Linked DNA regions of Homo sapiens: regions 1, 2, 3 and 4 are each linked to region 5. Evidence: fine-mapped expression QTL. A gene starts in region 5. Each other region holds a variant in brackets. All regions are shown on one strand. Distances are from middle to middle.

Region 1 (5,105 bases), 94 kb after region 5:
ATGATTTATATTCCTCTGAGTATACCCAGAAATGGGATTGCTGGGTCGAATGGTAGTTCTGCTTTTTGTTCTTTGAGGAATCACCATACTGCTTTCTACAGTGGTTGAACTAATTTAACACTCCCACCAACAGTGTATAAGTGTTTCCTTTTCTCTGCAACCTCACTAACGTCTGTTATTTTTTGACTTTTTAACCATAGTCATTCTGACTGGTGTGAGATGGTATCACATGTGGTTTTGATTGCATTTCTCTAGTGATCAGTGTTATTGAGCTTTTTATCATATGCTTGTTGGCTGCAGGTACGTCTTTTGAAGTGTCTGTTTATGTCCTTTGCCCACTTTTTAATGGGGTTGCTTTTCTTTTGTATATTTGTTTACATTTCTTATAGATGCTGGATATTGGACCTTTGTCCAATGCATAGTTTTCAAATATTTTCCCCCATTCTGTAGGTTGTCTGTTTACTCTGAAACCACTCAATCTTTAAAATTTCTTCTCCTGAGCATCGCTATACTCCTTCAAGTCAAATGAATTATTTCTTTATCTTTCATCCTATAGCTCTATGGCAGCACTCAATGTACTATATGGTGCCTCTATTCTGGTAGCATTTATTATATTCTATTACTATTATTTGCTTATATACAATCATGCATCACAAACTACAGGGATATGTTCTGAGAAATGTATCTTTAGGCAATTTCATTCTTCATTGTGTGGCCATCACAGAGCATACTTACACAAACCTTGATGGGATAGGCTACTGCACACCTAGGCTATATGGTATAGCCTATGGCTTCTGGGCTACAAACCTGTATGACATATTACTGTACTGAATACTGTAGGCAATTGTAACACAATGGTAACCATTTGTGTATCTAAACATAGAAAAGATACAGTAAAAATACTGTATAAAAGATAACAAACAGTACACCTGTTTAGGGCACTGACCATAAATGGAACTTGCAGCACTGGAACATGCTGTGGGTGATTTAGCGAGTGAGTAGTGAAGTGGATGAATGTGAAGGCCTAAAACACATTTTGTAGTCATATAAAAATATTTTCCTTATATCCTTATTCTAGAAAAGGTTTATTCTGTTTTTAAATTTTTAATTTTTTTTTTTTACTTTTTAAACTTTTTTGTTACAAACTAAGACACAAACATACACACAAGCCTAGGCCTACACAGTGTCAGGATCATCAGCTTCACTGTCTTCCACCTTTACATCTTGTCCGCTGGAAGGTCTTCAGGGACAATAACACACATGGAGCTGTCATCTCCTATGATAACAATGCCTTCTTCTGGAATAGCTCCTGAGGGACCTGCCTGAGGCTACTTTACAGTTATTTTGTTTAATAAGTAGAAAGAGTACACTCTAAAACGACAATGAAAGTATAGTAAATACATAAACCAGTAACATTTATTATCAAGTATTACATACTATACATATGTTATATTTGTATACAACTGCCAGTGCAGTAGGTTTGCTTTACACCAGCAACACCACAAACAAGTGAGAAATACATTGCACTATGATGTTACTGCAGCTAGGACTTTACTAGGTGATAGGAATTTTTCAGCTCCAGTATAATCTTATTGGACCATCATCATACATGCAGTATGATGACATAATGTTGACAGAAACAGTATATGGTACGTGACTGTAGCTGTATGTCTTCTTACTCTCCAAATCACTAGCAAACACATGCTGGTGGAATTTAAATTTTTGCAAAACAGCGATTGTTTCTTTTCCAACTTCATATTTCCAGTACTTGGTAGAGTGCATTGAGTACACAAAATAGTTATCCAAGAACCGTTTATTGAATGGAACAGCCACTACCACCACCACCAAAAAATTCTAGGCCCTTATTCCAAGAGTTAAATTCCTATGGTCTAAAGATCCATGGATTAACTTCAGGAGGTCCATGAACGTGGTGAAAATGTAAGCAAAAAGTTGTTTGTGTATATATTTGGGGGCTGGGCAGAAAATACATGGTTTTCTAAACAAATGTGTCAAAAGGTTCAATGATCCAAAAGGATAAAAACCTGCTATACTAGACCATGCTATCTTTGGAATGGGCTGAAAAAATAAGGTAATAATAGTATCATGATCATAATTACTGTCCTTACTTTTCCTTTGCTTCAGGAGAATTGAAGAACTGAATCAGAGCCTGGCTGCCCAGGAGAGGCTTGTAGAACAGCTATCTCGGGAGAAACAACAACTGCTACATCTGTTGGAGGAGCCAACTAGCATGGAAGTGCAGGTAAGGTTTGGTCAGTACATCCAGAAGCACTTGCTTCATGCTTTCATAAGCCCTGCTTTTTAATATCTAAGTGTATTTGTTATCTATTGTTGTGTAACAGATTACTACAAACTTAGCAGTTTAAAACACCTTATTTTTGTTATCTCACAGTTTCTGTGAGTCAAGAGTCCAGATATGGCTTAGCTGAGATCTGTTTGGAGTCTCATAAGTGTGAAATCAAGATGTAGACTGGGCTCTTTTCTCATCTGGAGGCATACCTAGGGAAGGATCGGCTTCTAAGCTCCTCAGGCTGTTGGAAGGATTTATTGCTGTGTA[G/A]CTGTAGAAGTTATGGCAGCTTCCTTCTTCATAGCCAGCAGCAGAAAGAGTCTGTTACTTTTCTCACTTCTAGACTTTCTTTTAAGGGGCTCATTAGGGCAGGCCCACCAGCATAATATCCCTTTTCGTTAACTTAAAATCAACTGATTAGCAGCCCTAATTACATCTATATGACCTCTTTACTTTTTTCATATAACATAGCATAACTATGCAGTGACATTTCATGACCTTTGCCATATTGGTTAGAAGTTACAGGTTCTACCCATCCTCAAGGGGTGAGGATAACACAAAGATGTGATGGCCAGTGGGTGAGAATTATAGGGACCACCTTAGAATTTGCCAGCCACATCAAGTGATTTATAATTATATAGAACATACAATGTTTTAGGGGTTTTTTTGAGGGTTAAGTTGTAAAATACTGTGCCGAAGTACACAAACTATGGGTTCAAATAAACAGTTATTGATCATCTATGAGCTAGGCATATTCTCTGTTTGTATATATTGGAGTATGAACCTTCCAGGTCCTTGAAAATGTGCTGGGTACTAGTTGAAATGGTGATTACTATTTCCGTACAAGTGTATCAGATAATGATAGAAATTTGCCTCCAAAAAAAAATTTTTTTTTTTGAGTTGGAGTCTCACTCTGTTGCCCAGGCTGAAGTGCAGTGGGATGATCTCGGCTAACTGCAACCTCTGCCTCAGCCTCCCGAGTAGCTGGGATTACAGGTGCATGCCACCACACCCAGCAATATTTGTATTTTTAGTAGAGATGGGGTTTCACCATGTTGGCCAGGCTGGTCTCGAACTCCTGACCTCAGGTGATCTGCCCGCCTTGGCCTCCCAAAGTGCTGGGATTACAGGCGTGAGCCACCACACCTGGCCATAATGTAGTTTTAATATTGAAAAGAGAACTCACTGTGGTAAAAAATAATTGCATTGATTTTCTGGGAAGTTACCTCGAAGGGAACTCCTCTCCTTCATTCAACTTTTAATTTACTAAAAAGATATTTTCTAAAAGAACTTTAGAATATACCTGCACCCAAACAACAAAAGCAATTACCTGGTATCCTTACATTCTTGCACTGGTCTTAGACTACTGATAAGACAAAATGTGGGTGGTTTACTTTACTGGTTCACATATGGAAAGGTTGGGGTCAAGATAAAAGAGCAATGATAAGAATTAGTTTAAACCACTGCTTCCCAACCTTTCCATTTCATGGCAAATGATAATATTTGTAAGGTATAGAGGTAAATGGATGAAGCTTCTCACTTGGAGGTGGCCAATTTGGGTGCTTAGGCCACTATGAGGGCAGGAAAAAATTACTATCTTGGCCACAATTACAAACTTCTTAGACTGCAGCTCCATTTTGGTTGGAAAGCATTGGTTAACAAACTCAAGAAATAATGTGTGAACATAATTTTACAAGTATGAATACAAATTGAAGTTCATAGGCTTTTTGCAAGATACATGTTGAAATATGTGGAAATTTTCTTAAGGGACTCTTGAAAATATTTCGTAATACATTTAATTAGAAAAAGCTCAACTGAGAATAAGAAGAATTGAATTTCCATCCTGATTATTTAAGCTGATAAGAACAGATACTACACTTGATCTTAGCCAAAAGGCCGAGAAGCGATTCCATCCTGATTATTTATTAGCTGTATGACTATGGATATGTCACTTCTCAGCTTCCATATACATAAAATGAGAAGATTAGCTCAAATAATCTCTATAGTTTCCTATAATGCTAACATTCTATTTTTATCTTATTTCAGAATTTTATTTCATTCTATTTTAGTTCAGAATTTACATGAATATTATTTCTTTCAAAATGTTCACCTTCTGAAATGAAATCACTTTTATTGCTCCTTTTGTATTTACAGGCACATAAATACTAAAATATTTTGTACATATACTTATTTTCATCATCTTTGGTAAGCACTGAAATGAATATATTTAGTTCAGTATTTTCAATGCTAATTAAGGAATTGGTTTGGTACCAGTTTTCAGAACAGACTTAAAGAACCAAAAGATTATAATTTCAAAGAGACTAAATTATTTATATTCTACTCTAAAAGGATGCTTAGAACAAGAATAAGTACAGCATCCAGGGGATAATATTGCATGACCATTGGGCAGAAGAAATGCATCAAATCATATAAACTGTACTAAATTGATATGCTTTTTAAACATTGCCTAATAAAAATTTATTGTTGTTATTACCCAATACGTTGTACATTTCAAAACCTGATACATTGCGCTGTTTGTTCTATAAGACAATGTTTCCTACCCTTTTTCATAGAAAATTCATTTTCATAGGAAATGAGTGTACATCTATGGTATTCTGAAATAAGTGCCCATGGCTGCTCATGGTTTGAGGCAATTGCTTATGGCCACCTCAGGACCCATGCACCACCCTGAGAGCTGAGGGGATCAGCATCTTTGCACAGTGGTGGACCATGCTGAGGTACACTGTGCTGGAATACCCAAGTTGGAAAGCTCTGCCACAGGAGGCCGCTGATAGTTGGT
Region 2 (5,105 bases), 180 kb after region 5:
TGTATATGTGTGCACATATATATGTACATGTATATGTGTGCACATATATACACCTATATATAGTATGTATATACACACAACATATATAAACACACTATATGTAGGTGTATATATATGTACACACACACACACATATATATAGAGAGAGAGAGAGAAAGAGAGAGAGAGAAATTGAAAAACTCAGTTATAATCCCTCGTCTAAGGTGCCCAACTCACATTCTCACATGCTACCAAAAGACCTCCTCCTTCTCTTTCATTTTTGAGAGTGAGGACTATGAAATCTCTTTCTTCCTCATCCCCTACCCTTCTCTAGCTCAGTGCTGACCTTCTACCTTGGAGTATCCTATACTTTAGCCTACAGGATTAAGGTTACTATGGAGATGAAATATGGACTTATCTTCATCTGCCAATCAAATGCTCTATAGGTGCATGTGTGTAACTTAAGCCGCAGGGAAGTTTCAGACTGGATGTGTGCCAGCTCAGTGCCATCCCCAGGCCACACACAGAAATGGTGACATCTCCATCACAGATGGGTTGCATGAGACTCAGATGATAGTGGGGTCCTTGGCAGAAAAGAATGTCACAGAGGAGGGTTCTGACAAGTGCTTGGAAATACTTGGGTCAATGTTACCAGACTCCTTCTCTCTCAGCTTACAGCCTGGATGCCTGTCACCAAATCCCTTTGAGCAGTGACCTGAGCCACCTGGTGGCAGAGGTACGAGCTCTGAGAGGGCAGCTGGAGCAGAGCATTCAGGGGAACAATTGTCTGCGACTGCAGCTGCAACAGCAGCTGGAGAGCGGTGCTGGCAAAGCCAGCCTCAGCCCCTCCTCCATTAACCAGAACTTCCCAGCCAGCACTGACCCTGGAAACAAGCAGCTGCTCCTCCAAGGTAGGAAGGAAAAGGGACTTAGAAAGCCCTTGGCCAGTGGGGAGATCACCAGGAAGTTCTGCGGCAGAAGGTGTAATCTGCCTGGTCCATGCTCCTTAGGGTCAGGTTGAAATCAGAGATGCTCTAGTCTAGCAACCTGAGTGAAAGCGTGGGATTTAGGTCAGACTGGGCTCCAGATTCTGAGTTTACCACTTAGAGGTCGTTTGATTTGGGCAAGGTGTCTAAAGTCTCAGAGGTTTAAGCTTTAGTTTCCTTATATTTAAGATGAGGATAATGATCATATGTACCTTATATGATTTTGAGCATTAAATGAAATCATTTACAAGTGCTTGGCACACTAAGAATTACTCAATAATTAGCAGCTGTATATGTTCATATCTTTTTCTTGGATTTGCTTGGTGCTTTAGTTTTAGCCAAGTGTTTTCACATATATAATTTCATCTGAAGTAAAGCAGGTTTTGCTATCTCTGTATTTCACATAAGAAAACTTAGGTCCTGAGATATTAACAGACAAGCGGGGATTTAGAGAAGTTATAGACAAAGCCAGGATCAGAACCAGATGTTGTGATTTTCAGTCTGTGTTCCTTCCAGCTCATTGTGCCCTGTCTCAGTATTGCCGACCTTCCCAGATTCTCTAGTCCCCCTTTCCCTCACAGGTGGGGAACTCAGTGTATGGTAAAATGTTCCTGCCCCTAAGGAAACAGGGCTCTGGGGAAGTCCTGGATGGTGGGTGATTTATTTCGGGTGGTCATCATTCGCTTTCTCTACCCCACCCCTTGCCTGCCTTTTCAGATAGGCGTGTTTGACCAGGTCCCCCTTCTCAATATCCTCTATCAATCTCACTTCTCCCAGTTTTCATTGAAATGTCAATGGTGTCCCCCTAGTCTCTTAAATCATTCAATTTCTACTTCCTCTGTCCTTTTCTCCTTTTGATACACCGTTTAGTACACCATCTCCACTCACCTCCATGGCCATACCTTCAATTTTATTCAAATCAGGAACCACTTCTGTTCAGTTTCTCTAAAGCTGAGCTTTCAAACTCTCCTGCCAGCTATTTCTGGGTCATGTTAATCTTTGTTTTTCTGTGGTTCTTGTAGATTCTCATTTATCTGACAGTAACCTTATTTGTCAAATGAAGGTGACAATAACATGATTATGCTGTTTTGGCAATTCAATAAAAAAACACATGTGGTCCACCAAGCAAACCGCCTGACCACCAGGCACTGCTCAGCTTACATTAGTTGGACACCTTGCCCTCCTCTGGGCTGCCCTGATGGTTGTGGTGTTCAGTTATGTCTCCAACTCTTCCTTCTAACCAGGCCTTCTTCTCTCACTGGCTTCCCATACAGCAGCCAAGACTCAGCCCCACTGATGCAGTCCCTGCCCCTCTTTCTCTAGCACCCCGGAGGCCTGAGCTGGAAAGCAGGCACTGGGCCACACTTGCCTGAGCAGGACCTTTTCTACCTTCTTTGTGATATTTTCCAATTCCTCCACCATAGGGTTGCTTTTTAGTCTCCAGCAAGACAATGTTAACCCACCAAGCCTTCTGTCTCCGTTCTTCTCATACAAGTCAATTTTTTTCAGTATTACCTCATCAGAATGATGACTAGAATGTTGAGTCCCCCATGAATCCATTCATTCCTTGATTCTTTGATTCTAGATTTTAATATGTACTATGTATATTTATACATATTACATTTAGTTACAGGGCATCATATTAGATACCACACACAAATTATACTTAAGACTCGGTTTATAAAAATACACCTAATAATTTTTCAAACTAGAAGTTACGTTCTCATGGAACACCCCTCAATTACAGGAATATCTTTTTGTTCTGAAGAATGGAAACATTCTGAACTCAGTGACTCATAGGCTTTTGATTTTGCTTTGGCTTGTGGGGTATGGATAATTCTGTAAGAGGAGAGTCCTGCCACCTTAGGTCTCAGTGGGGACAGCTAGGTGTGCATGTGCTTCATGTGCAGTGTGTTCCAGGGCTCCTGAAAACTGTGGTTGCCTTTACCCCCTAGATTCAGCTGTGTCCCCTCCAGTCCGGGATGTTGGTATGAATTCCCCAGCTCTGGTCTTCCCCAGCTCTGCTTCCTCTACTCCTGGCTCAGAAACGCCCATAATCAACAGAGCAAATGGTAAATATGGCAACTAAAGGGCCCAGGGACTGATGATGGAAAGTGATTAATGCAAACAACCTTTTGTTGTCTCTAAACATATTATCTGTATTTAGAGAGTTTTCTCTGCATGCCCCAAGGCCTTTAGCCCTACTCCCTG[C/T]ACCTTCTGTGGCTGCCTTTCTTGCCATTGTTCATCCTCCTGTAGTTTTCCTACTGCTGTTTTTGCTTCATTGCACCATAATCTCTCTATTCTTGAAAATGCTGTCTGTATCCAGCTTGACTTCCTTGTCTGTGTCTTCTCTACTCAGAAACTTATTATTTATTATGATTCATCCTATTTCATTTGCCAATAAGGAAAAAATTGTCTCCTGGCAAATTTATCATTAAGAGATAATGTAAGAAAGATTATAAAAATATAGAAGCCAGAAGATCTCTATGGACTTTGCCCCACCCTTGTACATTCCCAGGCTTCCTTTCTTGTTCCCGGCCTCGTCCTTTTCTTGTTCCCTACCTCTTTTTTAGTTGGAGCAAACTGAGGATATCATTATGAATAACAGAAGATTCTGTTGTGTTGTCATTTTCTTTTTCAGGCTTGGGTTTGGATACTTCTCCAGTAATGAAGACCCCTCCCAAGCTAGAGGGTGATGCTACTGATGGCTCCTTTGCCAATAAGCATGGCCGCCATGTCATTGGCCACATTGATGACTACAGTGCCCTAAGACAGCAGATTGCGGAGGGCAAGCTGCTGGTCAAAAAGATAGTGTCTCTTGTGAGATCAGCGTGCAGCTTCCCTGGCCTTGAAGCCCAAGGCACAGAGGTAATCACACCTGAAGCTTTAGGTGCACTCTTTCCCTGTGCCCTTTCTTCCTTTGATGTTAACTCCTTCTCCCACCATTTTTGTTTTTTTCATGCTTTGCATCTCTCAACAGCTGAGACTTCCTCTTCCATGTATAGCAGCCAGGCCCTTTCTTCTCTATCTCCTATTTTCACTGTGAGTTCTGCTCTGTTCCAGATGTAGCTGACTGGATATTTCCCCTCAGCCCCACAGAAACATGTGGCATTGCCTAGCAGCCTTTGGTAGCTTATTATCTACCATAGTCATGCAGGCACATGACCATCTGTGGGCAGAGTCAACTCAATGGGATGGATAGAAACTGAAGGATTTGCAGGTGTATGGCCCCCACATGTGGAAGGGGTGAGAAGCCTGGCAGCCATGTCATTTCCTTGTGCAGACTGCATAGAGGGAGGGAAGGCAGTCAGCAAAGCTTCTGAGAGCACCTTGCCAGTGAGAGAGACCAGGAACCTGTGGCTGTGCTGTCTGAGCTGCTGGAGACCCATGGATGCGTAGGGACAGCCCTGCCTCCACGGAGCCCCCACACTAGAGGGCAAGACACACACCCAAGTAGATAAGCACAGTAAGGGGCTACAGGCACAGTATGAGAAGTCATCCTCTGTGCTGTGAGAGCTCCAATACAAATGTGGTCATTTATCTCAGGCAAGGAAGGTAACAGGCTCATAGAGGACATAGCAAGGGGGGTGAGTTTTGAAAGCCTTGTGGGTTCTGCAGGTGGAGGAAGGCATTCCTGGTAAAGGGAGCAGCACCTTAGTTCTGAGAGCTGCAAATGGTTGTGTGAGGGCTTCACAGGTTCAAGCAGGCCCATGTTCTATGCCTCACTCACAAAGGAAGCTTGAGCCCATGCAGGGGGAAGAAAGTAATCTCTCCGCTCCTGTGGTGTTACCTTTCCCCAGGTGCTAGGCAGCAAAGGTATTCATGAGCTTCGGAGCAGCACCAGTGCCCTGCACCATGCCCTAGAGGAGTCAGCTTCCCTCCTCACCATGTTCTGGAGAGCGGCCCTGCCAAGCACCCACATCCCTGTGCTGCCTGGCAAAGTGGTAAGATGCCAGTGCCCTTTCTTGGTTCAAACCCAGTTCTCCTGCCCTCCAATACTGTTCTGTCTCCTCAATGTCACAGCTTTTCCAGAAAATCAGGAGCCACATAGTGAGTTGGGATAGACAGGAACTTAGAGGAGTGTCCCTGGAGGGACATCTCTGACCCATGGTGGCTGCTTTCATTACAGCTCTGAATATA
Region 3 (5,105 bases), 150 kb after region 5:
AGGAGCCAACTGTGGTGGGTAGTGCTGTCTCTAAACATTCCTAGAAAAACCTATTTCTCGTTTTCTTTGAAGAATAAAAGAGACCATGAGCAGGAAGAATTTCTTGACATTACAGAATTATGGCATCACAAAATAGGTGCAGTGGTCATATCTCCTGGTCTGCCTGGGAGTCCTAATTTACATGTGCCTTGGTTAGCCTAAGGATAGAAGACTGTAGTTGTATTGAATAATTACCCTTTTGGAGAAGTAGAAACTCTTTCCAGAATTTTAATGGGATTTCATACCCCCAAAAGTATTTTAGATTATGATTTGGCCTTTTCAAGTAACTTAAAACAGCTACTTTCTGAAACATGTGAGCTGGAAAGCCCTAAGGCTACTTAAGAGATGTTGCAATTTAAAGACAAAGATACACCATAAAGGGGTTTGACTGCAGACAGCAGTTTTCTACCACTTCTGTTCCACGATCAGAATCTGTCTAGATAGAGAATTTTATTTCTTAGCAGAAACTATGGAGGACTATATGGAATCTTAATAGTTTTCTTATGATCCTGAAGGGAATGTGTGCAGGTGAAATTGTAGTTTGATAGGAGGCCTCTTTTCCTTGATTCTCTCCATAACATTACAGCACCATAACATTAAAGTCAGCAATAGTTGGTTCATGACGTGAAAATGTGAGCGTTCTTGTAATGAACGCATGGCAGTGTACCTGGGAGTCAGAGTGAAATTGGGCTGAGAGTATTAGACACAAGGGCCCGGTACCGAAGGAAAGAACACTTGGCACTGCCAACTTATTCATGCTTAAAGTTTTAGTTCTTCAGATCACCTTTTAAAATTAATAAAATATGATCTCTTGCTATGTTCTAAGTAACTATATGGAAAAACATCACTCCTTTTCTGTTTATCCCATATTAGTGGCTTAAAGGAAGATAATGACTACAGAGTAGAATTGGGGGGAAATGGTCTTGACTCCACCCAGTTTGGACTCATTACTAAAGAACATGTCATGAGCCAGGTGTGGTGGCATGCACCTGTAGTCACAGTTACTTGGAGGCTGAGGTGGGAAGATCCCTTGAGCCCAGCAGTTCAAGACCAACCTGGGCAACATAATGAGACCTCATCTGTAAAGCAAAATAAAACAAAAAAAGAGGTCATGAAGTTCCCCCTAAGGCTTATTTGTGCATGTTGGAGTTTTAAGACAGTTATCATTTAATGATGATTAGTCCTTTTTGTAAGGCACCTATTCCAAAGAGTTCAGCCAAAGAGTTGTCACTCCTTACCTTTTCAATGTCCTGTGAGGCAGAGAGCAAAGAGTGTCATTTCAAGCCTCCTGCTGGGGAAACAAGTATTCAGAAATGAAGAAGTGCAGGTAGAATCAGTCAAGATCATTCAGATAGTAACATCAAGTATAAAACTTCCTTCTGCTGATGCTATTTAGGTTCTGTGGCCTTCAACTTTCTCAGTCTTCAACTTATAAGCCCATGGACTACTTCAGTTTACTTACAATAACAATAATAATATTGTTTAAGGATGGTATTTATTGAGTACACACTGTGTACCAAGCACTGTTCTAAGCACTTCAAAATCAGCAAACCCTTTAAAGTTCACAACAGTATGGAGTGGGTAACACTCTTAACCCTAATTATTAAATGAAGAAACTTAGTTATGGAAAGGTTATGACTTGCCTGAAGTGACATAACTAACAATAAAAGCACAATTCAAATCAAGACAGTCTATCTCCATAGTTCTTGTTCTTAATTATTATGCCATACTCAATTTAAAAAGTTCTACAAAAGTATGAATTTTTGCTTCAGTGATAAGAATACCTTATATTTGCATAACGCTTACATTTTCACCCAAGGATTTTATGGTCTTATGTTTTAGAGGTTTATTTTTGTGTACTTTGTAGAATTAGATAGCTGATAGAAAATACTTTTCTAAATAAGGGACATCTTGGTATCACCTCCATTTTGTATTGTTCAGAGCCTAGAAACTTCCAAGAACCACAAGTTGAGAACTTTTATTGAAGCCTCAAATAAAAGTTTTTTATAAAATTGCCAGTCTAACATGTAAAACTTAATCTCGAAGAAGCAAGTTAAATGAACAGATTCTTAGCTCCCAGAGAATCTAAAGGCGGCAGGCTATTTTATATTTTATCAAAAAATAAGCAGACGAGTCATCAATATAAAATCATAGGTACCTTAAATTAGAAATTCAAAATATTCCAAGTTAGTTCTGAAGACAGTGTTTCGTTGTGCAGTAAAAGTTTAGAAAAGGGTATCACACAAGAGAAGTTCTCTCATTTATTTAAAAAAATGGAAAATGGTAAAAGATGTCTAATGTCTTGTATGGACCTTGTATGAGATAACTTACTCTTTTATTCCCATATTTTCTATAAATTTTTTAGCTTTACCCCTCAAACATGGGAGAAAAAGTTTCAGCATTTTAATTCAAATTGGTAAAAGGCTGAGCAACCCTTAAAGCTGCCATAATGGAAGAAGACTGTGAGCTAGCTTAAAAAAGAGAGAATGAAGGGGAAGAAACAAAACCCCTGTGTGGCAGAGTGTCGAGATGAGATGAGCATTTATTTGTCTCCGTCGAATTCCTTATGAAGCCAGAACCATAGCATCCTGCTCTTAAGTGAAATAAGATGGAGCATTATCCAAGAATGCAGACGTGGCACCAGAAAGGCTGCCAAAGATAAGTGGAGGGCAGAAAGTGTCAGATAAAAACCTTCAAGACCAGTGATAGTCACCCTTTCCAATTCTCGCTTCTGGAACCTGGCAGGAATGGTCCTGGGATGTGGGCCCAGCCTGACTCCACAACCCAGCAACAATGGTAGGGGATGAGGATCCTGACCTCATAGAGCTGTGCTTTCTTCAACTACAGGATCCTTCTCTAGCCCCATGTTCAAAAGAGAAACAATGTGAACAGTCTGTTTT[T/A]TGTCACTGAGTGAGACAATTCATTTCCTTTGCTGGAAAAACATAAAAGATTGTGATCGCTACTGTTGTACAGGGAAAGATTTTCCAAAGTAAGCATAACATGATGTGGGTGTCCTAGGTAAATTAGTATCCTGGTTTTCAGTAGGTTTTTAAAGCAGCCAAAGATTAGGGAATGTGTCCATACACCTCTACTCAGCTAGTATCCTGAGTGAGATGGTTTCTGGGGTTGGTTTGAATGAGTAAGTATTGGAAATAACTCTTGTACACTGTCTGCCACAGACCTCTAAAGATGCTAAGTGGTAGAGGTGGTAGAGGCTTCACTGAACAGGACCCTTCCTTGATCCAAAGTTAACATAAAGTTCATGGTGTAGATGAGGAAACCTAAGCTGTTATCACAGCATACTTACTACCTCTTAGCACTTCCATGAGATCAGCCTGGGCCATTGCAAATATATAGATGTGAACTGCCCCCTCAAACATGGGAGAAAAAGTTTCAGCATTTTAATTCAAATTGGTAAAAGGCTGAGCAACCCTTAAAGCTGCCATAATGGAAGAAGACTGTGAGCTAGCTTAAAAAAGAGAGAATGAAGGGGAAGAAACAAAACCCCTGTGTGGCAGTGTCGAGATGAGATGAGCATTTATTTGTCTCCGTCGAATTCCTTACGGAGATAAGGTAAGCCCCTTATCTGTATTGGGTAGTGAATGCTCATGATTCAAGCAGAGCCTTTCATGCCTGGATGTCTGAACTCAACAGAAGGTTCTTTGGTCTTGGAGGAAGAAGCAAAGATAAAGATCAGATTTGTCACCAGAAGGAAAAGTGAGTGGCTTCTGTCTAAGAGTCCAGAGTCTTGACTTACTGGCGCAGCTCTAGTGAGGGCTAGTTGTGTAACCTTGGACTCACCACGTAATCTCTTAGAGGTCCAGGTTAATCAGTGGTCAGAAGTGGAGTTGTAACTGGTTGGTTGCCGAGGCTAGGATCAGAACAAGATTTCAAGATTCTTAAGTTGGGGAGGTTCTATAAGACACAGTGAGTGTCACAGTAAATTTTCTTTGACAAATTAACCATAATAAATTTCTACACTTCCTGAAAAATACAGTATATAAAACATAGCTCTTGGTCTTAAAATGTATGAACAGTCTTAATTTTAATCAATATAAGGAGGAAGACACACCCTAGATTTGTGCTGTCCAATAGGGTAGCCACTAGCCACATGCAGTCATTTAAATATAAGTAAATTTAAATAAAATTTAAGATTCAATGCTTTGAAATGTGAGCCATACTACCCACATTTCAAAGCTCAATAGCCATATATGACTGTGTCCACTGTACTGGGCAACACTGGCACAGAACATTGCTGTCATTGCAGAAAGTCCTCTTGGTCAGTGCTGCCTTAGACCTTTGCCCATACCACAAACTGCAGCTACTTGTACCTTAGAGCAAGGTGTAGATGTTTGGGCCCTAGAGTGGCTGTGTCCATCTCTGGAGAATGAAAGGATGGGTTAAATCCCACGGGGATAAAGCAGTGCAAGAAACCCTTCAGGCAAAGGGTGTCTGCATAGAATAAGAGTTTGAGAGAGGTGAGGAGGAAGGGAGGTTAGAGGAAGAAATTAGGGAACAACTGAATCCTTTGGTGTCTTGAATCTTGACTAGACCTGAACCTTACTAGGACACAGGACCCCCAGAGGGAAGTTCCTCAGAGAGATTGTCACCCTATGCACAACTGATCCCAACAATAGATACCTCTGAGAGATTCAGGGCAGCTCTAATCTCCAGGCACTCAGTGGTGGGGAAAGGGTTAAGCATGTTGGACTCATATTATGGAAGAGAAAGTTTTTATGTAGCCAGGCAGTGGGGAATAATTCAGGCTTTCTTGACATTCGAGTGGGGTAACCAGTGCATCCGACAGTCGGCTCCTTAGAAATGGGTCTGTGCAGGCAAAGTCAGCTTATGTTGTGAGGCTCAGGCTTGAGTATGAGTAAGAAAGTGTCTGTGATACAAAAAGTTCTATTTTTCTTTCCAGCCCTGCTGGCTAGGGAGAATTTCTGCCCCATGTATATGGAGAAAGGAAGAAATCAGAGTCAGCGGGCAAAAAGAGTATAATTTAACCTGCTGTCTGGAAGCCATCTGTGAAGGGAATCACTTTTCTTTTCTGGACTTGTTTCCAG
Region 4 (5,105 bases), 490 kb before region 5:
TGAAAGATAAAGGCAGCTTCAGAGATTTTGGCAAATTTTGTGAGAGAATTAAATGTCAGAAAAAGAACTTAGATTTCAGTGCAAAGTGGTCTATTTAAAAAGAAAGAGAAGGAAGGAAGGAAAAGGAGGGAAAGAGGGAGGGAGGGAACTTAGATGAAGACTAGAATATCTGGGAATGGGCTTAAACCATCAATCGTTTCCATTAATGACCACATGCTAACTAATTATAGCACAGAGATACCATACTGTAACATCAAGTACAGTTAGCATGGGGGTAAGAAAGTGTTCCCCAACCTCTCCGTTCTCCTCTGAAGACACATTTTCTTCTGAAGAACAGAGATATTGAATCTTGCCTTTGGGTAAGTTTGGGCATCCACATGAATGAGCTGGGGCACCCAACACCAGATTACACCAGGCCACGACCTTCCCTGCTGCCCCTTGCCTGCTTCAGAGGCTGCCCCGCTGCAGGTGGGGGCCTCAGCCCCAGGTCTGATGTTGTCCATTTGCTTTCTCACTGGGCTTCTTTCCTTGCACTGACTTCCACTCCCCAGGACTCAGTGAGTGGCCACATGGGAAAGACACAAACTGGCCATGCCCCTTTCTCTCTGACACCTCTTGATGCCTGCAGAGGTGAGCTCCAGACCCACTCCATGAGTAGTGACTTGAGACTTGCTCACAATGATGTCCCTGTCCAAGAGCAGGGACTGGCACTTAATAGCCACACATGAAAGCTCAGTGAAAGAAGGCATCCACCACAAGGTCCTGGAGGAAAAAGAATTCCACTATGGTCCATAACGTTTTAGTCCCAAAAGATCCCAGATTAGGAGATGTGAAAGGCTTTTGAAAGTGGCCATTCTTTTAAAGCATTATGCTGGCAGCTGCACTATGTTTCCCCATCCTGGACATGTCTGGAGGGCACTGTCTACAGCCATACCCACCTCCCCACCCAGGACAGTGCAGCAGCTTTAATTTGGGGGATGCCAGTGGGCAAGGAAGGGGTGAACCATGAAAGCTGAACAGGAGAAAGCAGGTGGAAGAGGGGCAACAGGGTGGAAATAGAGAAAATAAAGGTGGGTAGAGAATGGGGGGACTCAGGGGGAGAGAGAGAGAGAGGGAGAGAGAGATCTAGCCACTAAGGAAGGAAAAAGTCCAGAAGAGAACACTTGTCTGCTTCAGTAAAATAATTTACACCTAACCAGGTGCAAGGGCACTGCAGGTCGTGGGTGGCATGCCCTGGTCATGCTGTGATGTTTAGGGGCCATGACATCTACCCTTTGAATCCAAATCATCAAATAGAGAGGGAACTCTGTCCCTATCTAGCTGGCAATGCCTTGCGATTTTACCTTTTAGATCTGGCAGCTCTCCACATCTGCTCACTTTGTGGGAGGCAGCTCTTGACGCACCAAATCAGGATGATTCAAAAATCAGAGCCTTGGAGACTTCACTGGAAGGCTTGGACAGTGGGAGGTGGTGGCATCCGGAGGGTGGAGTCCAAGAGGTAGCAGCGCTGAGGCTCCACACACCCTCAGGAGGATGGTAAGGGGCAATCTCTTGGTGAGCACCTAACTTCCCCAGGAACCTCTGCCTAGGTGGAAATGGGCCCCACGCCTAGCTTTTCTCTGGACAGGCCCTAGCCAGGGATCCAGGGTACCAGTTGAGTCCTAGGCAATGCAAATGCCTGTGTGCTGACCTTGTGGTGACTGGAAGGAAGCACCATGATCCTTCCACTTGGAACTGGACTTGCAAAGACGATGGCTCCTACTGCTTTCAATTTCCTTGGACTTTCGCAATCAGATTTAGCCTTTTGGAATGTGAACATGACTCTTCTGGGTCACCCCAGGTATGGGGTGGCCTTGGATCTGCTGGTCCTCCCCAGGCCTCAAGGACTGGCTGATATTCATCATCTCGGTTGGTGTCACCGCACTCACAATCCCCAGCAAAGATCCCCCAAAGTGTCCTGACTAGAAACATATTCCTCAACTTCCTCTCAGCTCGTGGTAGCCATTCTTCTGTTAGTGTAGGCTGCGTGTGGGAGGCTGGTGGTGGGTAGGGTGGGAGCCTAGAGAAGGAAGAGGAACGGTAGCCAAAAAGGAGCAGAGAAGGAGGAGGAGGCAGGAAGTATAGAAAGCTGGAGGGAGCTGGGGAAAATGGGTGTGGGGGTAGTGTGAGGAAGACAGGGAGCAGGAGAGAGAGGGGACTGGAAACAGAAGGAGAGGAGGAGGAGAAAGAGGAGGAGAAGAAGGCAGAATAAGAAGAGCAGAAATTCCAGCATATCCCAAATCTTGTTCCAGAAATGGTTATCAGTGCCCCATGGATAAAGGGAAAAGGAAATTTGCAAAGAAAAAGAAAGAAACCCCAGCGGGTAGAGGGTCTCGGCAGAATGTTTATTTCAGAGCAGGAAACTCTGGCAACCCAGGCAGAACTGTTGGCTTTAGTGGAGGCCTAAATATAGCTCTTCTCTGTTCCTAATCCTGAAAGGTGCTTAATCTCATTCTCTGAGATAGAAACCTAAAGAGAAGGGCAGAGAGAGGTAAGTCTGGGG[C/T]GACTCCTCCTATTGTAGATTAAAGGTACTCAAGTCCTGTGTGACAAAGAGAAAAAAATACCTGAAAAGGAAATTCTGGTGACTATGGAGGCTGAGAATTCACTTGTCAAATGCTCATAACTGAGAGTATTCTCAACAGCTGGTTCCATGGGTTAATGGTGAGCACCCTGGACTCTGAATCAAGCGATCCGAGTTCAAATCTCGGTGGTACCTTGGTGTCTGCTGGCCTTTTACTCTGGAGCCAGAAGCCACTTTGGGAAGCAAACTCCACCCTCAAAGACAGAGTGAAAGGGATGTGGTTTACATTTGCCCTTCGTACCAAGTCCTGGGTTAAAGAAGAGAAAGGAAGGTTTGGGTCCCGGGGAAGGAAGCTCTGCTGCTGCAAATCCCCTAGTCCCTCCTGCTCCGGCCTCGCAATGCGTCCCCTGCAATGTCCCTCCTCCTCTCCCGTGTCCCTCCTGCTCCGGCCTCGCAATGCGTCCCCTACGATGTCCCTCCTCCTCTCCCTTTTCCTCCTCAGTGGTCTGGGTCCCAGAAACCGGCTTCTTGCAGTGGCCTGCTCCACAGGGAAATTGCCCAAACATCCCATCGGAGTCACCAATCCTGGTCCCAGTCCTGGGCGAGCCTCCCGGCCCCCTGCAATCGGAGGCCCGGACCCCGCAGCCAGCGTCCCAGCAACCGAACAAGTCCCCATCCCCTCTCAGGGCGACCCTGGGCCTCGGGGTGATAGGTTTCCTACACTAAAAGGGCTGCGGCCCCTCAGTGCTAGACCCCGAGATTCCTTTCACTCGGGAAATCTCGTAATCGCATCCATTGTCTTTTTGGTAAGTAAACGGTGACGTGAGAAATTTTGATGGGGTTAGCTCAGTCATTGGTGATTATGTCTCAGTTTAGGGTAGATGGTTTGAGACCTAACTTAGAAGTAACACTGTTTTATTCGGATGGCCCATCCTCTTCCGAATGTTAATTTACTCTGTTCTTCATATTCAGATTTCCATGCCTAATTTCTAGCTCCTACGTCTCTATTGCGGGACCTAAAAGTCGCTGTTTCACTAAGCTTTGGAACCCGACTCCAGGAAATCTCATTCTTTCGTCCCAAAATTTCAACCGTAAAGAGAAATCCGCGCGGCGGCCTCTTCAAGCGCCCGGGCCGGGAGCGCGGGTTCTGACCTTCGGTCGCCGGGCCGGTCTCCCGCAGCACCACGGGTAAGAGGAGCCTGAGCAGCTCGGAGGGATGAGTGCGGGACGGTGGGGGCTCCCCCTCTTCCTGCCAGTACCTTGCCCCAAGGAGAAGATGCCTTAGGACGCGACAGATGAAAAATCTTTTCTTCTGCTTGGCGGAACACTTTGGATGCGGCTTATGGTGGGTCTTGAGAGCAAGCTAAGATGTCCCGCCAGACGCTCAGGACCATCGCTCTGATTTTCATATTTTGCAAATATGAAAATTTTCAGCGGTTACGAAGGACTGAAAAACACCGCAGTCTTTGAGGGGCTCAGTTTGGAGGGCGTGCGGAGGTGTGGGGTGGGAGACGGGAGAGAGGTGCCTTGTTGGCTCCTTGGAGTGGACTGATAGGAAGGAAAACACACAAATTCCATTTCCCCTTGCAGGCTGGACTGCAGGGCCTAGGATGGAAAACTGGGCAGTCAAAGAGCAACAATATGTAGAGGTTGACTGCATGCATTGAAAATTGTTATCCCTCACACCTGTAATCCCGCATTTTGGGAGGCCGAGGCAGTCGGATCACGAGGTCGGGAGATGATCATCTTGGCCAACATGGTGAAACCCCGTCTCTACTAAAATACAAAAATTAGCCGGGCGTCTTGGCGCGTGCCTGTAATCCCAGCTACTCGGGAGGCTGAGACAAGGCAATCGTTTGAACCTGGGAGGCGGAGGTTGCAGTGAGCTGAAGCTGAGATGGCGCCACTGCACTCCAGCCTGGCGACAGAACAAGACTCCGTCGCAAAAAAAAAAAGAAAAGAAAAGAAAGAAGGAAAAAAGGAAGGAAGGAAGAAGGAAGGAAGGAAGAAAACAAAATTGTTATCCCTAGAAAAAAGTGTAGGGGGGACCAGAACACTGCTGTTGTTGCTGTTCACCACCAGCTTTAGAGCATATGTAACTGGTAACTGTACAGTGCATCAAAAATCCTTCCTGTTTACAACCAATTATCACAACTAGCTACAGATTTCTTTGTTCCTTCTCCACTCCCACTGCTTCACTTGACTAAACTTAAAGGAAAAAAAATTGTTTTTACATATGATATTGTTTAAATTGATCCTCAGCCCGTCCTCCTCAAGTAGCTGGGACCACAGGTGTACAACACGGTGCCTAGCTAATTTTGTAGAGACAGGGGTTTTGCCATGTTGGCCAGGCTGGTCTCGAACTCCTGGACTCAAGTGATCTGCCTGCCTGGGCCTCCCAAATTGCTGGGATTACGTGCTGGCCTCCATGCCCAGCCATCATTTGTATTTTGAATTTAAATATTTTATAGTCATAAGTATCACTCTTCAAAGATTCTGAGTTTTGTAGCATGTATATGGTGAGGTTCAGGACACACTACTCCAA
Region 5 (5,105 bases):
GCTGCTATAGCAAAATAGCTTAGACTGGGTAATTTGTAAATAATAGAAATTTATTTCTCACAGTTCTGAAGGCTGGACCAAGATCAAGGTGCTGGCAGATTCAGTGTCTGGAAGAGCTTGCTCTCTGCTCCCAAGATGGCTCCTTGTTGCCACAGATGCTGTGTCCTCACATGGCTGGAGGGACAGAGGACAAAAGGGACCAGAGCAATCCTTTCAACCTCTTTTTTAAGAGCACTAATCCCATTCATGAGAGTGGAGTGTTCATGCCTTATCACTTCCTAAGACATATTCCTAAAAGGCCCCACCCTGTAGTACTATAACACTCGGTGTTAAGTACCAATGTATGAATTTTGAAGGCATACATACATTCAACCATAGCATAATTCAAAAAAGGAGAATGATAAAGGCAGAAAGCTCTTCATTAAGGCATTATTTATAACAGTCTAATATCAGAAACAGCATAACTATGCAATAGTAGAATATTTTAAGTAATCTATGGTCCTACTAATATTATAAAATATTGTACACTCATTAGAATAATAACTATGAACTTTCCCTAAAAACATGGACAAATATTTACTAAGTGAAAGAAGGAGAATATAAACATATACCTAAGCTGTAATCGTAATTATGTAAATAGATATTTAATATATATAGATAATGACTAAAGGGAATTTGGAGAAATTTAAACATTTGTGCTGTAGCAGTGGTTATATGGGTGAATATTTTTCTTCTGAAATCTAACGCAAAAAAATTGTTCTTTTGACAATAAGTATAATTTTTAAAACAACAAGGAAATTTCTCTTCTCAAGAATATACCCATGTGTGTAAGAAAGAGTTGGTGTTTGGATTAAAAGATGCATTTTTTAAAGAGTGGGAAAAAAATGCAACACATTTTTAATATTGAAGATCCCTGGGTATTCTGAGTAATCTATATAACTTTCTGTATTTTTCAAATGTTTTTACAATGAATGTGCTATAAACTTTTGAAAAAAGTTATTTTAAAAATACATGAACGTATTTTCTAGCGTCACTTCTGAGACCCCACAGCTCACCTAGTTAGTGCTATCATTTCTTGAATCCAGTGAGCTGCCTGTAGACAGAGTTCCTCTCCACAACTCGGTAGCCCATAATTTGATTTGAGACAAAGCTAAATATAGCCCCAACTTTGGTATGAAGGATGGGAATCTGACTCTCCCTGCCTTTTCTTCCCCCCCATCAGAGGCAACAGGATATTCTTTTCAAGACAGGTGGCCTGTGAGCCTTGTCTAAGATCAAACTGGACCTTGAAATTTTTCCTGGTAACATTTTGAGCTCTGGAGCAGTGTGGTCCTACCAATAAATCAAGTGTTGGAGGAGTCTAGACTAGGGGCTTTTTAGACAGTTCTGCTAAACCTTCAAATGTTTTGTTATCCTCCCCTCCCCACCCCTACTTTGTACTAGTATGTAGGGGAACCAATCCAAGAGATAACAGACAGATGACAGGTTCCCCCAAGAACACAGACTCCCCACAGTCTCACCAATACCCAGGCATGCCAGGTTCTTCCTGAGTTAAATGCCTAGGAGGCCTGAAAGAATAAATTCATCCTGGAGAAGTCTTGTGGGTCGTAGCTTTAGAAATTCAGGGAACATATCTCTGGGGCCACCCAATGGAGAACACAGCCTGTATCAGAACCTTAGCAGAGACTTTGGGCCTTTTGGGGTCTCAAATTTATCATCTCTGAAACAAGTACAACGAAATTAACATTGCCACATGTGGGCACTATAAAGCCTTTTTCAGATAAAAAAAAAGGTCAGTGATAGTGCTAATAATAACAGTGATTATGTCATTTAATAAAACGGTCTTATTTGAAAGCTAAAAAGGAGCTTCAGGGTGGCAAGCACTCTAATTATAGTATGTCTGCCTTGTTTAAATCTTGATACATAAGTACATGGTACAGGGCCTGAGGCAATGCCATCTCCAAAGAGGCCTTTTCCATGATCTTAAAACAGTCACAAGGGAGTGTCGAGGTCCTGATGGCTACTGTCTTGAGGCTTTTCTAGTGTTCTGGGAGTCAGGAAGCTTCTCCCTCCTTGAAGCTATTGGTAGAGCCCAGTTGCTGGCGAAACTGAAAAACGAGGAGGTAGAATACCCTAAAACAGGAGATGTCTGGGATACAGGCAGCTAATAGGGCTGTAAGGTTTTGTTGGGATGCTTCCCTTCCTGATGAAGGGTCCTGTCCCTGGATTAATGGTGAAACTGGCATGTCACATCTCTAGGAAGACAACATCGTGTTCCATGACCACGTAGGGTATACATCTGCATTCAGCCGGGATTGCTCCTAAACCTTCCTAGACTCCATCTCTGGCTCTGGGGTTACCTGTGGGTGGGGCGATGCAGACACACAAGAAAACCTCCTCTACAAATTCTTCCTGTAGTTGGTTGATTGTATTCTAAGACCTTCGTTGGGATGGGCGAGGGACGGGGCTTGGTACCGCGTCCTCTAAGCTCTCTGCCCTCTGCCGTCATCATTCATCTGAGCCAGCGAGAGAGGGGTCGGGGAGACGCGAGGGTGGTTCAGGGGGCGTGTAACCTGGGCCGATTCTGCCCCAGCACACTGGTTGTCGGGAGCCCCGCCTCCGCTCGCGGTTGACAGCTCAGCTGGTGCCGAGCAACTCGTGCCAGCCAGTCGTGTCTCAGCCTGGAGAGTGCGCGCACCGCGGCCCGGGCAGCCGCTGGCTCCAGCTCACGAAACAGCCCCGGGCGCCGCGCCGCTCTGAGTCCAGCCTCCTACTGAGAACAGTCCCTCCCTTGTGCGGGTCGCACGGCTAGCCGCAGGTTCGGCCACGTCAAATCCATTTTCTAAAAAAGCAGGGAGCAGAGCTCTCTCTTCGCCGCCGACGCAGAAAGGAGCTGGGGAGGAAAAAGCTGCTGCCTTTTGCGCTGGAGATTCGTGGGCAAGGCTTCTCATTTTCCCAGGCTGCTTCCCCTCCCGGGTGAGGAGCGTCCTGAGACTAAGGAAAGAGCCTGGAAAATGGAGCAGACCTGGACGAGGTAGGTGGGCTGTTTCCTTCTCGCCGCGCTCCAGACTTGGTGGTCCTCCTCCCTCCCCTCCCCCAGCGCCCTTAGGGAGAGAGAGGTCGCCCCTCACCACCAGGGTCCCGTGACAGCTTCCCTTTTCTGTAGCCTCGCCCTGCCTGGTTCCCAGCCCACCTCTCTTGGTCATTTTCACATGTTCTGTTTTACGGGGTTTCCCTTGCTTAATGACTCTCCCCTCCACCGAGTCCTGATGTTAAAAATACCCAGGGAGGCCGCCTGGAACTTTCTGTAGAAATGGTTCTCTGTCGTTTCCTTGTTCGTGTGGCTAGAGGGATTCCAGTAGGTCTTCTTGAGAGATATGTTTGATGTCAGATGCTTTGAACAATATCAGGTTTATTCTCACCCTGCCACGTTTTCCTTCTCAGCCTCATCTGTCACTACTCACACAAAGGCAAAGGGACTGAGTGAGCAGAGCCCAGCAGCACTCATCTCCACAACCTCCAGTTGGAGCCCACTTGGGGGAGGAATGGAGAAGGAAAGAGATCAGGGCACCACACTGCTCAGGCTTTATTGAGGCCAGGCAACAGTTGGCTTTTAGGTCAGATTTTGGAGATGGCCTGTGAAACTGCGTTTTCTTCCAGTCCTTCCCCCAGACACACTTTAAAATGAAGCCCCATTCAAGGAAAGGGTAAGGATAAGAGACCATGTATTGAGACAAAGACTTCGTTTCTGTTTTTTAGTGGGTGGGAGGGTAGGGAGACTATTCCAGCGGTGTCTCTATAACAGATACGCTTCCATCTGTGGGATTTAGCTTTGGAGAATTGGGGTGGGGCCAAATGAGCGCTCTGACTCCTGAGAGAGTGAAGACGGTACAAACACAGAAGGTAAATTTGGGGCTTATGCAAAAGACTTGGGTGCTTTTAGTTGATTGCTAAGCTCAACAGGAGTGAATGGTATAATGTGAATATTAAAGAAGGAGCAAATTGAAGCTTAGGGTTTGTTGACAGAAGAAGTAGGCTGTCTAGATTCTGTCTAGATCAAAAGTGATGATTTTACTTTTGGCTCCTTTCTGCTCCTCTTGGGCCTCTCCGAGAGGGCTGTGCTTAGTTCTGGGCATCATTAGATAAAATAAGTACAATCAAGAGACAGGAGGGAACTCAAAGCCATGCCTTGAGGGATGGCCAAAGGAAGGACCTGGGACTCCTGAGTCCGGAGAAATGACGACTGGGAGTGGGGAGGATGTGGTAGCTTCCTTCAAATTTCCGAAGAGCTATTGGTGGTAGAGGGATTGAATCACATTAGAATCTCTTAGGAGGACAGAACAACCGATGCAAGCGAGTTGTTGGGAGGCGAGTTATGGCTCAGTGTAAAGAAAAAGCTTTCTGGCCAGGTGCAGTGGCTCATGCCTGTAATCCCAGCACTTTGGGAGGCTGAGGCAGGCGGATCACCTGAGGTCGGGAGTTCGAGACCAGCCTGACCAACATGGAGAAACCCCATCTCTACTAAAATACAAAATTAGCCGGGCGTGGTCGCACGTGCCTGTAATCCCAGCTACTCCGGAGGCTGAGGCAGGAGAATCGCTTGAACCCGGGAGGAGAAGTTTGTGGTGAGCCGAGATCAAGCCATTGCACTCCAGCCTGGGCAACAAAAGCGAAACTCCGCCTCAAAAAAAAAAAAAAAAAAAAAAAAAAAAAAGACCAGGCGAGGTGGCTCACGCCTGTAATTGCAGTACTTTGGGAGGCTGAGGGGGGCGGATTACGAGGTCAGGAGATTGAGACCATCCTGGCTAACACAGTGAAGCCCCGTCTCTACTAAAAACACAAAAAAAATTAGCCGGGCGTGGTGGCGGGCGCCTGTAGTACCAGCTACTTGGGAGGCTGAGGTAGGAGAATGGCGTGAACCCGGGAAGCGGAGCTTGCAGTGAGCCGAGATCGCGCCACTGCACTCCAGCCTGGGCGACAGAGCGAGACTCCGTCTCAAAAAAAAATTAAAAAAAAGCTTTCTAACAAGTTAGCTGCCTGGGCAGTATGGGCAGTAAAGAGATTGTTGACCCTGGAGTTACTCAGGCAAAGGCTAGATGACCACT

The links.
Region 1: its variant is fine-mapped to the expression of PDE4DIP in whole blood (TOPMed, PIP above 0.99).
Region 2: its variant is fine-mapped to the expression of PDE4DIP in whole blood (TOPMed, PIP above 0.99).
Region 3: its variant is fine-mapped to the expression of PDE4DIP in whole blood (Lepik 2017, PIP 0.95).
Region 4: its variant is fine-mapped to the expression of PDE4DIP in whole blood (INTERVAL, PIP 0.98).

The regions. Positions count from the first base shown.
Region 1 is chr1:148,935,605-148,940,709 of GRCh38, forward strand. It overlaps PDE4DIP (phosphodiesterase 4D interacting protein), which reads left to right. Exons shown (of 47, transcript NM_001395426.1): 8 at 2,143-2,260. It also overlaps the pseudogene RNU2-38P. Among named protein-coding and RNA genes, the nearest start is that of PDE4DIP, 94 kb to the left of the region's middle. The variant G/A (reference allele first, on the strand shown) is at 2,576.
Region 2 is chr1:149,023,795-149,028,899 of GRCh38, forward strand. PDE4DIP (phosphodiesterase 4D interacting protein) reads left to right here. Exons shown (of 47, transcript NM_001395426.1): 41 at 651-890; 42 at 2,921-3,037; 43 at 3,607-3,833; 44 at 4,766-4,909. Among named protein-coding and RNA genes, the nearest start is that of NBPF9, 77 kb to the right of the region's middle. The variant C/T (reference allele first, on the strand shown) is at 3,177.
Region 3 is chr1:148,986,780-148,991,884 of GRCh38, forward strand. All of the region lies in intron 24 of PDE4DIP (phosphodiesterase 4D interacting protein), which reads left to right. Among named protein-coding and RNA genes, the nearest start is that of NBPF9, 110 kb to the right of the region's middle. RefSeq lists an enhancer at 5,061-5,105. The variant T/A (reference allele first, on the strand shown) is at 2,940.
Region 4 is chr1:148,350,878-148,355,982 of GRCh38, forward strand. It overlaps the pseudogene TRQ-CTG9-1. Among named protein-coding and RNA genes, the nearest start is that of RNVU1-1, 9.1 kb to the right of the region's middle. RefSeq lists enhancers at 2,648-3,458, 3,459-4,268 and a silencer at 2,780-2,879. The variant C/T (reference allele first, on the strand shown) is at 2,543.
Region 5 is chr1:148,841,761-148,846,865 of GRCh38, forward strand. PDE4DIP (phosphodiesterase 4D interacting protein) reads left to right here and starts at 2,668. Exons shown (of 47, transcript NM_001395426.1): 1 at 2,668-3,034. The coding sequence starts at 3,015. RefSeq lists enhancers at 2,117-2,838, 2,839-3,561.